3 separate regions of the Homo sapiens genome follow, and regions 2 and 3 are each reported to be linked to region 1. The links are microRNA targets in miRTarBase. Many come from high-throughput screens and were not tested one by one. Region 1 holds a microRNA gene; each other region holds the end of a gene's coding sequence.

Region 1 (4,577 bases):
TGAACCAAAAAGAGTGTACCAGGAGGAGCAGACCCTGAACAGTTAGAACTATGGAAATCGCTATGCTTTGTGTTGTCACAGGAGTTAAAATAGGAATACCCTGCATACAATAAATATTTATTGGATAAATAACTAAGCCTGATACCCTTTTCAATGCGTTATACAGACTCTATCATCACACCACTAATCTAAGTTCTCAGAAGTTAAACATTACAAGACTTCAGAACAACATAGGCGTCTTTGGCTCCATTTAACAGAAGAAGGACCATAGTGATCATTTAATCTCTATGAGTCTGTCTTATCTTCTGGAAAAGGGGCCTAACACCATTTCCTTTTGCAAAAAGGTAGCTGCCTTGCTTCCAGTTCTACCATCCTCTAGCAACCCATCTTTCTCTTATTTGATGTCTCTGATCAGCTCCTCTTCCAGCACAAACTGGAGAAAGGGGATCCTTTCTGTTTTCTTGGAGGCTTCTGAACTCAATTACAGGTCTGCATTAAAAATGTATGGAGAAAGCTGGTGATCAGTTTGTACATATGGACAAGTTCAAGGCAGTATGGTCTACTTCTGGGAAGGCCTGGATTCCATTTGCTCCTGATGGAAAAACCCTAGTCCCAGCAGTGTTTAGAATGAACTGGAGAAGGCAGATGGGTACCAGATTCAGGAAGAGGTACTGATAGACCAAGACCAGTTCTTTCTGTTTTAAAGATGTGTTATCTCAATCTCCTCCAATGCTCCCTTTGGAAATTCACAGAAGATTAGGGCTCCCCACAGAAACAGCAGCTGGCCTGGGCTGGTCTTCTGACTAACTGGAGCTGAATACAAAAAGTCTGATGGGTTGACTGAGTCGGTGACTGCCAATTGGAGCCTGAAGCCCCCAAAGTCTTCTCTAGACTTGATGATGAAGCACCAGTTACAGTTCTCCCAGCTCGCCTTCCATTGCCCGCACCATGACATACAGCTCGGCCAGACCCACCACAGAGGCGACGATCAATGCAGCTAGCACCCGCTGGAGATGGGGAGAACCAGGCTTAAGGGATGCAGGCCAACAACCAGCTCTGTACCCCAGCAACTTTAATGAGGATGGAGAGCCCCCCAACCACCCTCTAAGTTGGGGGAGGGGAAGAAAAGAGAATGTGGCTTCTCCTGGGGTTATTACCTAACCTCCCGTGACTGCTGGAAAGCTCTAATGCTCCCCTTATTAATGGCATAAATATCTGTTCAATACCTAACCTGTGCAAGGCACTTTCACATACGTCCTCCCTTACCCACTAACACCCCCACCAGGGGCACCCTGCCCTGCCCAGTGCCTACTCACCGAGGCCATTTCTGTGAAGATATATTGGCTTCCAAGGTAAGTGCAGACGAAGGCAGCAACCACCGTGACAATGAAATTGAAGATGGTGATGACCAGAGCCTTCAATGATCTCACTTTGGGGAGGAGCCAGAGAGGGCACCTTTAGTTCAACATTCTCTAGGAGGTGCTCTTATCTCATGGCTCCCCCACCAACTGGGTTTCAGTCAAACAACAAGCCTGAGTGTCATGACCCATCTCAGGAAAAGGTTTTAGAAGCCTGATCTCCTAGTACCTCACCTTGCTTTCCCAGGTCGCTGAGAGTCCCACCATGTCTTGTATCCTGGGAAAAAGAAAAAGAAGATGATTCAGAATAGAAGCAGCTCAGAGAGCATCCATTGACAGTCTGGCTCAGCCCTCTCTATTCCCCAACATATTAACTCTGCCCTCCCCATGGATTCTTTTGTCTGGAACCATTTTGACTCTTTTCTGGACTACAGAGCAGGCATTTCGGAGAGAGGACATAGGCTGCCAGTACCCATCTACTCTCCTGTTCCAGGGTAGGAGCATGCCATAGAGTAGTAGGGAGCCCTGTCAGAAGAAATGCTCGAATGGCTGGGCACAGTGGCTCACCTTGTAATCCCAGCACTTTGGGAGGCCGAGGCAGGAGGATCACCTTGAGGCTGGGAGTTCAAGACCAGCCTGGCCAACGTGGTCTCTACTAAAAATACAAAAAATTAGCCTGGCGTGGTGGTGCATGCCTGTAATCCCAGCTACTTGGGAGGCTGAGGCATAAGAATCACTTAAACCTGGAAGGCGGAGGCCGCAGTGAGCAGAGATCCTGCCACTGCCCTCCAGCCTGGGTGACAGAGTGAGACTCCATCTCAAAAAAAAAAAAGAAGAAGAAAAAAAGCCTCCAAGATTCATTCCCACTTATTTATTTATTTATTTATTTATTTTGAGATGGAGTCTTGCTCTTGTTGCTCAGGCTGGAGTGCAATGGTGCAGTGTTGGCTCACAGCAGCCTCTGCCTCCGCCTCCTGGGTTCAAGTGATTCTCCTGCCTCAGCCTCTCGAGTAGCTGGGATTACAGGTGCCCGCCACCACGCCAGGCTAAGTTTTGTATTTTTTGTAAAGACGGGGTTTCACCATGTTGGCCAGGCTGGTCACGAACTCCCGACCTCAAGTGATCCACCTACCTCAGCCTCCCAAAGTGCTAGGATTACAGGCATGAGCGCCGTGCCCGGCTAACTCCCACTTCTATGACGTTTAAAACTTGGTCACCATCTCAGCCCAGAGTCTCAGTGAATGAGATGGGAACTGTGTTGTTTGTATGCAGACTTCCTATGGTCCCTGAACAGTATAGAAACCAAGTTTCCATGTTTTTTCTAAACTCTGTATCTTCTTCCACTGCAGGGCCCTACTCTGAGGGGCTACCTAGACCACGTACTGAAGAGCATGTCCTTACCTGACAAGTGACGTTGCGGGTGATCCGTTTATATTCCTCATTGGCCAGCTGTATCTTAATCTTCTCCAGCCGGGCAACTAGTTCTGGGTTCTGAAGCAGAAAAATCAAATGAGAAGAATGATATTCCCAGCTTGTTAGAAAGCACATCACAATCATTGGTTCCAGGGGTAAAGCACTGCTAAAGGTATCAGGAGACCCACATACTAGTCGTAACTCCAGTGCTTTGAAACTGTTTTTTTTTTTTTTGATCTCAATTTTCCAAACAGCTGATGGGGAGGACAATATCTGGCTCCCCCAGATCCCAAAGATTTCAAAAACAATTTTTCAAGCCTAAAAGTTGATTTATAAGTTCAGTGTATCATGGATAAGCCCAACTCAGTCAATAACCACTCTCACAAACATATCCCTTACATACCCGTGGAGGCTTCACAACCTCTGGGAGATAGATTTCACTGCCTTCTAGGAGCTCATGGAGGTATAGTTTGGAATCTGAGAAGAAAAGGTTTCACAAACACAATGATCCACGAGCTGAGGTTGAAGGGTTAAGATCAAGAGGGGTGTAGCCCTTCTTTCTACCAAAATAAAACAGGGCCATCTCTACATTAATCCATTTCCAGGATCATTTTCAATTGAAAAGAATTTTGGATAATTCCATGTAGGTATCTCCCAGTGCTGCGCAGGTGACTTTAGCTGTCAGCTCTCAATTATCCTGCCAGTGTTATAACTAACAAGTAAGCCATTTACTTGTGCCTTTGGGTTAGATCAGTTCTGTGGCCACAACAGCTCTTCCCTAAATAAGTTTAGGTCATAGTGATGCTAAATGCTCAGAGGACACTAATACTAGGCAATCTCTTTCTAAGGTCCTTTCTAGTTCTAATAATTGAGCAGTCTACCCTTTGCACTTCTGGCTGGTCTATGTTACTTCTGGCAAAATACCTTATGTGCTAGTTTGTCCTGTTCCTTCCCTTTACACATAAGGGAACTGAGGCCCAGCGAGGAGAAATGACTCCTTCAAAGGATTAGTGACAGAGCTAGGACTGGAACTCACATGCTACTCTCAGGCCAGATCTTTCAACACAGCTTTTGCCATCCTATATTAAAAAAACAAACAAACAAAACAAAGTATCAGATTTCACCACTCTTGCTTTTGAGGTGGAAAGAAATCCGGATTCCTACAAGCTCACTATGCTAAGCTGATTCCTAAAGTGGAGAAAAAGAAGAGACAAAACCTGTGATATTTGTATTTGGTAAAAACCTAGACTTTCTCAAGGGTGAATTGGGCCTAGGTGTGCCTGGAAGTGAAGAGGGGGCTCTCAAAAGAGCAGAAACTGCACAAGCAAATTTGTCATCCACGAGAAATTCCCATGGGAGTTAAGAAAGTGGGTGGCCCTGGGATTTATGGAGTGACTCTTGACTTGTCTAGATGAGTGCTCCGTAGAAGAAGGGGAATGATGGGAAAAGACCTCAGGAGGGAATCGATCTGGACACAAGGAGGGGACCCCGGACTGGAGACTGGGGCTCACCCCTTTCTCTCAGATGCTGGTGCAGATCCCGGATGAGACGGAAAGAAACCAAGCGTTGGGGGCCACTGGAGCTATCACCGCCCTTGTGCTTCTTCCCCAGCGCGGCCTCAAGCTCGGCCCGCAGCTTTCGGGGTAGCCGCTCTGGCTCCAGCTCCCCGCCGGGGCCCAAAGCACGCACCAATCGCTCGCCCGCAAGCAAAGAGGACGCCATATCTAGCCGGCTCTCCGGTCAGGTGACCCCAACCCGGACTTCCGCCCGCCGCGCGCCGGAAGTAACGCTAAGCGCACCGGAAGT
Region 2 (4,288 bases), not on the chromosome of region 1:
TTCTTAGCCATGGCTTTGCAGGGACTACACGATTCAGTGGTGAAGGTTTGAGCCCACACTGGTTGGAGCCTGCTTAGCTCAGTGAGCCTTGATTGGTTAGGAAAAAGAAAAAGCAATTTAATGTTACTATGTTTCATATTTGGAAACCAAGATGGGGAAGGTTAGAAAAATGCAGAAGCTAGTGATTCACAAACAAGGAGGTGTACATAATAGACTTTCTTGAGGAACAGGGAGCTCTGTTTTTATTAAAAGGGGTGGGAGTTTTATTTGGAGACTTCTTTGGTTTTGTTTTGTAAAAGCAAAATGGTATCTAATAGGTAGGACCTTTTTCATGAGCCCCCTGATGCAGACCCTCAAGTTTGTTTTCTCTCACAGATCACAGCCAGGAACATTCCTGGGGCCCCCTGAATCTAGAAGCAGCAAGTTCAAGAAGGTTTTAGGCAAAAGGAAGGGCCCAGAGTGCTGCACCTTCCAGAACATTCCAGAACCTTCCTGAACATTCCATGTACCTTCAAGCAAAAGGGGTTAATGATTTTTCAAACCATCCAACTGTAAGCCTTTCCATGGCCCACCCAGAACTGGGCCCACTCCACTCTGGTGGTGTCCATCCTCACCTGCCTCCGATCATTTTCAGGCTGGAGCTGAACACAGAGGGGTCTCACTCCCTGCCCCTCTAAAGAAGAATCAGCTCTGTGCAAGACAAGGTGTGTGGGAGGCCTTCTGAAGGACCCCATCTGGTTCCCATGGTAACACTTCTTCCTAGTCCCTCTCTTGTCCATGTCTCAACTTTCTCTGCTTCTTACCTACCCTGAGGAGGGGAGGCTCAACCTGGTAGCTGCTGCCTTCTAAAGGCTGCTCCCCAATTCATGATAGTGGAGAAAGGTCCAGACCTGCCCAACCTTTGCCCCTTTTTACCTTTTGGTTGCAAACTCTACACCATGTCAATCATGAAGGAGAGCCAAAAAAAAAAAAAAAAAAGTGGGGACCGGGCACTGTGGCTTACACCTGTGATCCCAGCACTTTGGGAGGCTGAGGCGGGCGGATCACGAGGTCAGGAGATGGAGACCATCCTGGCTAACATGGTGAAACCCCGTCTCTACTAAAAATACAAAAATAATTATAATTAGCCAGGCATGGTGGCAGGCGCCTGTAGTCCCAGCTACTCAGGAGGCTGAGGCAGGAGAATGGCATGGACCCAGGAGGTGGAGCCTGCAGTGAGCCGAGATCACGCCACTGCACTCCAGCCTGGGCGACACAGCGAGACTCCGTCTCAAAAAAAAAAAAAAAAAAAAAAAAGCCAGGTGCGGTGGCTCACGCCTGTAATCCCAGCACTTTGGGAGGCCAAGGCGGGCAGATCACCTGAGGTCAGGAGTTTGAGACCAGCCTGACCAACATGGAGAAACCCCGTCTCTACTAAAAATACAAAATTAGCCGGGCTTGGTGACACATGCCTGTAATACCAGCTACTCGGGAGTGTGAGGCAGGAGAATGGCTTAAACGTGGGAGGCAGAGGTTCCAGTGAGCCGAGATCGCTCCATTGCACTCCAGCCTGGGTGAGAAAAGCGAAACTCCATCTCAAAAAAAAACAAAAAGCAAAAAAAAACAAAAAACAGCAGGGAACCATGCATTTTCAGAAAAATGGGACAAAGGTACTTTTTCGTGGGAATGGACTGCTTTGCACCCTGGAAGCTTGGACCAGGAATGGGAAGCCAGGGCAGGAGGGGCCCATCCTGCCCCAGACTGTGCTGAGAAGGAGAGCATGGGGGAGAGGTCTTCCAAGGCTGCTCAGTCTTTGGTCATATCAGCAGGAACTCAGCGGTTCTGGTGTCCCTTGGCCTCCAGCAGCTGAAGTGCCAGCAGTGAAGAGAGTAGAACCAAGACCAAGGTGGGATGGAGGTTCTAAAGTGGGCACTCTCAGTGCTTAAACTGTGCCTGTACTAGGGGGACACTCTGACTGTCTAGGCCTGAGGCTCTAAAGCTCCCACAGCCCAATCCCTCTAGCTACAGCCGACATCTCTAAAAAGCCCATCAAGCAGTTGCTGCCCCCACATCGTCAGGGATGGGGACCATCCACCTCACAGAACACCCCTAACTTTTTTTTTGGGTGGGGGGACGGAGTTTCACTTTTGTCGCCCAGGCTGGAGTGCAGTGGCGTGATCTTGGCCCACTGCAACCTCTGCCTCCCGGGTTCAAGCAATTCTCCTGCCTCAGCCTCCTGAGTAGCTGGGATTACAAGTCCCTACCACCATGCGTGGCTAATTTTTGTATTTTTAGTAGAGATGAGTTTTCGCCATGTTGGCCAGGCTGGTCTTGAACTGCTGACCTCAGGTGATCCACCCACCTTGGCCTCCCAAAGTGCTGGGATTACAGGCATGAGCCACCGCTCCTGGCCTCATCCCTAATTTAAGAGCCTCAAACGGAGCCAAAATCCGGCCCCTTACGGTTTCCACCAATTGGTCTTAGCTTTGACCTGTGGTTCCCACCCACTGGTCTTGGCTTTAACCTCTGGTTCTAGGTGACCCAACCCTTTAGAGATTCAAAGGCTGAACATCACACACAAACACATTTGAAACAGATCCCTCAACTGTTCCTCACTGACTGTTCTTTCTCATCCTTGTTTCTCCAAAGGTGCCATTTGGGGCGGGTGGGGGGAGGGGACCCTCTTCCAGTAAAAAACTTAAGTGAAAAGCAAAGCTACCCCAACACCTTCCTCTTTCCAGATAGTTATGTCCTTATTAACATGGACCAACACCATATTAGCTTTGTAGGCTTCCACAACACTGTGACTGTCCCCTTTTGTTTGCAAGAACTTCCACGCCTCCCTGCCAAACTGCATCTCATTGGACTTGACCTAAGCTGACCCAGGGTATATCCCACCTCCTTGTTCCACAATCATCAGCCAAACTGGCACCTAGCATTCCCCCTGGCTGAGGACAGATGCCATCAGTCCTGCAAAATGCCCTCCATCACTCCGTGGGGACCGTCATTTGGCAGGCCAGAGAAGACCAGGTACCATCCCGATTGGGCTTATGGGCAACCCAGGAAAAGATGCGTACAGGTGAGGCAATTGGAGAACCAAGATGGAGCAGTGAGCGCTTCTGACTGGAAATGCCGGGAAGTTAAGATTTAGGAAAGGCTCTCAACGGGTTGGTAATCAGAGAAGGCTTCATGGAAGAGGCAGCGGCGGTGTTGGACCCGGACAGCTGGGCTTTGCATGGGCAGAAAGGAGGGGAGAGCATCTCAAAAGTAGGAAGTGGAAGCACAGGAGCTGAGCTGTGGAGGCTGCAACAGCAGAGAGGAGTCGGGCAGCATCGTCATCCTCATCATCACATTTATTGACGGCCCCTAAGAGGCGGGGCTGGGGACAGAACGTACAAAGACAAGGACCTGCCCTCAAAAAGCTTCCATTCTAAGGAGACAGGGACAGAAAAATACAGAATGGTCTTTCCTGGGTATGGCCCACTCTCACCTGCACAGGTCAGAAGCCCCTGGCCTACCTTGCCCCAGGGTCTGGAGCATGTGTGGACACGTAGTAGCCCCAGGGCCATGGTGTCCCTGGCCCCACAGCCGAGGCCTGATCACCTGGCTCCTAGGCTGTGGGCCCCAGAATTTGGGGGAAAGGTAGGCTCAGGACATGATGTAAAACACTCCTGGCGGCCTTGGCGTTGTGCGAGCCCAGTGGAGTGGTGGGGTGCGACAGGTCCCCTTGGCAAGGCCCCTAGGGGACCCAGGCATCTTCCCAGGCCCCTGTAGTTGAGTCAAGTTCTTTAACGGGGCTGGTCCATCACCCTAGAGGCCCCGGGGCACGGAAACAAAAAAGGCAGGGTGTCTTCAGCGCCAGAGGCATAAAGCCCTGCCCACCCACCCCCAGCCCCCTCTCGGGCCTCTTCCAGGGGACCCTCCTCCCCAGCTCAGCCTCCAGGGCCAGGGCCTGCCTGAGGCCAGGGGGAGGGGCCTGCCCCTCCCCCCACCCAGGCAGTGGGGGAGGAGGAGGAGCCACGCATCAAGTTTGTCTAGGCCCCCCAACTGGGGGGCCGCACCGTGGATCCTACCGGTGGGGGGGCTCTGGCTGCGAGGGCCGAGGGCTCAGCAGGGGGGCCGGGCCGAGGGGGCACCCGGGGGAGCCCTTCAGTGGGGGCACTGGGCGGGAGTCCAAGGGGGGCAGGCTCCGGGGCACTGCTGGTGGCCCCCGGGCGGCCCCAGTGGGCAGGACAGCTGCAGCCGGGAAGGATTTGGGGGGATCAGCAGCCGAGGTGGGGGCCGGCTGGGCAGAACGCTCCCGACGCCG
Region 3 (4,288 bases), not on the chromosome of region 1:
TCTATGAAAACATAAATGTATTATGTACTGCAGAGTTTTTGGAGCTCACTAAAGATTAAAATAATAGGGCTTGATAAACTTGTGGAGTTTTGGTCTCCTAGTAGGCACTCTATAAATGTTTGTTGAATGAATGAATGGACAAATGAATCACATTTCCATTGTCCATGTGGTTGTGGTGTTGTGTGAAAGCAGCTTCTCAATGTGGTGCATATTTTCATGATATCATATAAAGGCCTAACTGAGAACTGCTCTGCTTTTCAGAATTCTTTGGTGATCTGGACACGCTGATGGGGCCTCTGACCCAGCACAGCAGCATGACCAATCTTGTCCGCTACGTTCGCCAAGGACTGTGTTGGCTGCGCATCGATGCCCACTTGTTGTAGTGGGTGTTCTCAGATCTCTAGCATCACGACCCATCACTCTACCTCTACCAGCGCACTGATGGTCACTGGTGGAACTCCACTCACTGGGGAACGTTCTCTTTGGTTATGTTTGTTTTTATGCTTCTTTTGTTATCTGTAAAAAACAGAAGTCATTGTAAGTTGACACTACAACTTAAGGGCAGTGTACGTTTTATTACTTAGTCATTTTTTTTCTTTTAGCATTTGATATGCATTTCTCAGATTCCACCATCTTTTTGTGCTTTATGGAATGACAGTCCCTACAATATTGTTTTAAGCCCACACTACCCAAAACAAAGAATGGGAAGCACTTGTGATAAAGACAGGCTCCTGAGAAATGCAACAAGTGGTCTTACATATACATGAGAACTTAGACACAAGGGACCATCCCCCAAACTCTACTCTTATACCCAGAAAAGAACATATTTCAGAATCTGTCAAACTTTTGTGTATCCCACAGATTCAATCTTCAGGTGAGAATTTTCATTGTCAAAACCCACTGGTTAGATGTTGTAGCAACATCATAAAATCAAGAGTATCAAGAAAATAAATGAGCATAGCAATGCTACTCTTAAAAAGATGCTATGCCACACAACCAGAGGACTTTCTTGTTAGCATCCCTTTCCTGATTCCCTATTTTGTTAATTTTAATGATAAGAAGAAAGGGTGACATTTATTTTGACAAGTTTTAGGCATCAGCTGGCATCAGTGTTTTTCAACTCCATTATTTGAAGTGTAAATCCTCACCTGGGGTTCTCTGTGTGCAAAGCTGTCCTTTTGAAGAACAGTTTGGTTGATGCATGCCTTAGTAGCCAAAATGCTACACTCTAGACTTACAAGTGGGAGTTAAGAGAGGTCTGGAAAGTGTCCAACAAGGAATTCACACCTCTGCCTCCTTTGCAACAACAACATTTACACAGTTGGTAAGTGGGTCCATAACTGGCAGGATTTTTAAATTGTATTTTGCTCAAATCTATGGGAACAAAAGTCAAGGTATCACTACCTAGAAGTAATGATATACAGTTTTCTTCCTAGTGGCTTGAAAATCTGGACTTCCTCAATTATTATTCACATTTTCTCTCTTATAGGTTTTCTGTTTTCTACTTTCTTTTTTCTCTTATCTGTGTTTCCCTTTCCTTTGTTTGGCTCATTAACTTTTGACTGAATTACAATTACTCCTTTTATTAAAGTCCATATTATTGTGAATCATTTCCATGAAAATTTCTAAGAAAACTCCAAACTCTCTAAATAGTAGCTAACTTTTATTTTTTTAAAATGAGTCGTGGGGTAGTGCTTCACCTTGAGATGCTTTGAAAGAGCCCTAAACATTGGGAACCATTCACCTAATTTGGAGACATTTCTCACTGGTTGTGACTACCCCCTTATGATCCTTCACATTCATTTTATGTCCCTAAACATCACAATGTAAATATCATTTTTGATGTTCCAGCTCACCAGAAGATTCTTACACTTGGGGTAAACACTATCCATGCATTACTTACTGGTAATTACCTGCTGGTATATAATTCCATGTAGCCTTTAATATGCTGGGTTATCAAATTCTGTTCACTGAGTTATGACCAGATAAATAATAGATATGCACATGAAAGATGCAAACTTGTGTGATTATTAAAGCCAGCCATGCAGGTCCATGATAGAAACAGCAGGTGATGACTCTGCACTCTCATTGTCAAGGTTAGATATATCCCCAGTTGCAAAACAGCCAGACTTGAGCTGTGCTCTGGTCATCTTTGAGTTTAAGGCCTTTTGTTGTATAAGGCTGTGGAAGTTGTACTCCAATGGCTGAAGCCATGTTGTTAATATGGCTGATGGGAGCATCCCTGCAGCTGAACCCAGCACTTTTTATGCTCCCACTGTGGTTGAGCTTTATGTTTACAGTCTCAGCAACAACACTTATGCATCCAAACACTCACAAATGAAACCTGAAAGAATCTTTTCTGAGCCTCTTAAAAGAGGAAAATGATGATAACATTAAAGACTCTGAACACCCAAGGTTGGTGTCACATATAAAAATTAAGCTGATGACTTTGCAGTGACTCAAGTTGTCTCTTTATCATGGTTTACCAGGTAGAGTGCCTGGCTATTACTATATAATGAAGCCCACTGGCTTGACTTGTAAGTTCAACCTAAACCACAATCCTAGACCATCATGGATTTAGGAGTAGATTCTTCTTGAAATCCCACATCCAGAAACTAGACATTAGAATGTTGAGGCAGTTTCCCAGAGAAACAAGCATATTGCCTCATGGATGAAAGACTTGTAGTTCTAGTTTCAGTGACTTGTTATATCTACTTACATACAACAGGGAGGCAAGAGGATTCTCTGTCATCTCTGGTGACTGAGTGTAAAATATGTGCCAAGTCTGCAGCACAGTGACCAAATCTGACAATCGAGCTCTGGATCACCACTTGATTATGTAGTAGACTCATTTATAAAGCAGCTTAGGAACTAATTAAACATGGAGGATGAATTACCTTCCTATCCCTTGAGATAAGACATCTTTCAGTTTCATGATTAAGGATTGTTGCTGTTTTATAGTTACTCTGTTCATCACAGTGTAAATGGTGATGCGTGTCGTAGGTGTGCAGCTATTTGAGGGACTAAGGGATGGAGATATTCTGTCAAATGAATCTCTTCAGTATACCAGTTTGTGGGAGGGATATGAGACATGTGGATGGCAGTGAGAGATCGTGCCTCTAGATCTTGATGGAGGCTTGGTGAGACACACTTAAATAAGCACGTGGAGGTTAGAATAGAGGGCAGAGTAAAAGGAAGCTCCATCTGAGCAAGTACACCAAATGATCTCAGCCCTGCAACTTGACCCAGGTAGGGCCACCACTACGCCTTCACTTGTCACCCAAGCTCCAACCACAGAGAGTTTGACAAGTTTGTGTTATGATGTTGGCTTGGCTTTGTATTTTTAATTAACTTTGGATTTTTAGTGGTTTTGTCATATAACTGTCTGAGTTTGGTAGGTAGGATTACTTTGAAAAGGGTTTACTAGTGTGGTCCTCCGGGTAGAATTTAGCTGTAAGCATGTTGTTAGCCAGCCTGTAGACTGTTAATTACTTAATAATCTCATTGGGAAAATACTAGTAGTTTTATATTTGGATGACATAATTGGAAAAGCAGATTAGCTGCTACTACTTTTAAAAGACTTAAGGTCGGGATGCCTTTTTTTCCATGTAAGGAAATGAAAAGACCAAAATCTTCAGGCAAAAAGCAAGTTGCAAAATTAGAAACCATTGGCTAAAAATGTGTTTTGTTGAGTTTCCAAATGGATGAATTTTCATTTGGACATTACATCACTAAATTCATTAGATTTTGTCTGCATTGGAAAGATACTCTTCTAGCATATCTTTCCCAAAGATATCTAATTTGGATTCTGTTTCATGCAAATTTGCATCCCGGAGGTTGAAGTTGGAGTTTGAGGTTGGAAAATATCTTTGAAGGCAGAATCAGTTGAGTTGTGAGGGTGAAGCCTCACATACTTCTCAACAGACATGATAAAATTCACCTGCATGAGTTGGCAGGTGGGAGAACCAAACTGGATCACTGGGTAAGACTACTCAGTAAAGCAATGAACTGCTTGCTTAGAGAAGCATCACTATCCCCATTGAGAAAAATGTGTGGCAAGATGATACAGCTACACAGTATCAAATGAATGGGTCAATTCAGCACCCCCAAATTTAATTCTGTGGGGAAAAATTATTGAGCCAGTTGTCAGTGTTCTGTTACATGACTGGCAGACTAAATTCTTCATCGTTGTTGTTATTGTTGTTGTTGTTTCTCATTTTCACTCGCACGGCCTTATTCTCATAATTAAAATCTAATTCATTTTCTCTTTAGTGTTAGTAGACTCCAA

Evidence for each region. Region 1 holds the annotated microRNA hsa-miR-4723-5p (UGGGGGAGCCAUGAGAUAAGAGCA, at 1,481-1,504, opposite strand). A microRNA usually pairs through its seed, bases 2 to 8, with sites in the 3' UTR of a target mRNA and lowers its output. Matches are read on the target gene's strand: a 7mer-m8 pairs with bases 2 to 8, a 7mer-A1 pairs with bases 2 to 7 and ends in A, and an 8mer does both.
Region 2: the mRNA of VPS37D is a reported target of hsa-miR-4723-5p. Seed matches in the 3' UTR shown: 8mer at 3,980-3,987, 7mer-m8 at 3,945-3,951 and 7mer-A1 at 3,612-3,618.
Region 3: the mRNA of AFF2 is a reported target of hsa-miR-4723-5p. Seed matches in the 3' UTR shown: 7mer-A1 at 789-795.

Annotation. Positions count from the first base shown.
Region 1 is chr17:28,357,587-28,362,163 of GRCh38, reverse strand. MIR4723 (microRNA 4723) reads right to left here and starts at 1,510; the gene lies at 1,430-1,510. VMA12 (vacuolar ATPase assembly factor VMA12) reads right to left here and starts at 4,517. Exons shown (of 6, transcript NM_152464.3): 1 at 4,283-4,517; 2 at 3,175-3,248; 3 at 2,760-2,849; 4 at 1,593-1,635; 5 at 1,317-1,429; 6 at 1-1,007. The coding sequence starts at 4,493. The coding sequence ends at 912. RefSeq lists enhancers at 4,260-4,359, 4,472-4,577 and a silencer at 4,550-4,577.
Region 2 is chr7:73,671,137-73,675,424 of GRCh38, reverse strand. It overlaps VPS37D (VPS37D subunit of ESCRT-I), which reads right to left. Exons shown (of 4, transcript NM_001077621.2): 4 at 3,315-4,288. The coding sequence ends at 4,049. Among named protein-coding and RNA genes, the nearest start is that of VPS37D, 5.4 kb to the right of the region's middle.
Region 3 is chrX:148,990,950-148,995,237 of GRCh38, forward strand. AFF2 (ALF transcription elongation factor 2) reads left to right here. Exons shown (of 21, transcript NM_002025.4): 21 at 262-4,288. The coding sequence ends at 383. Among named protein-coding and RNA genes, the nearest start is that of AFF2, 490 kb to the left of the region's middle.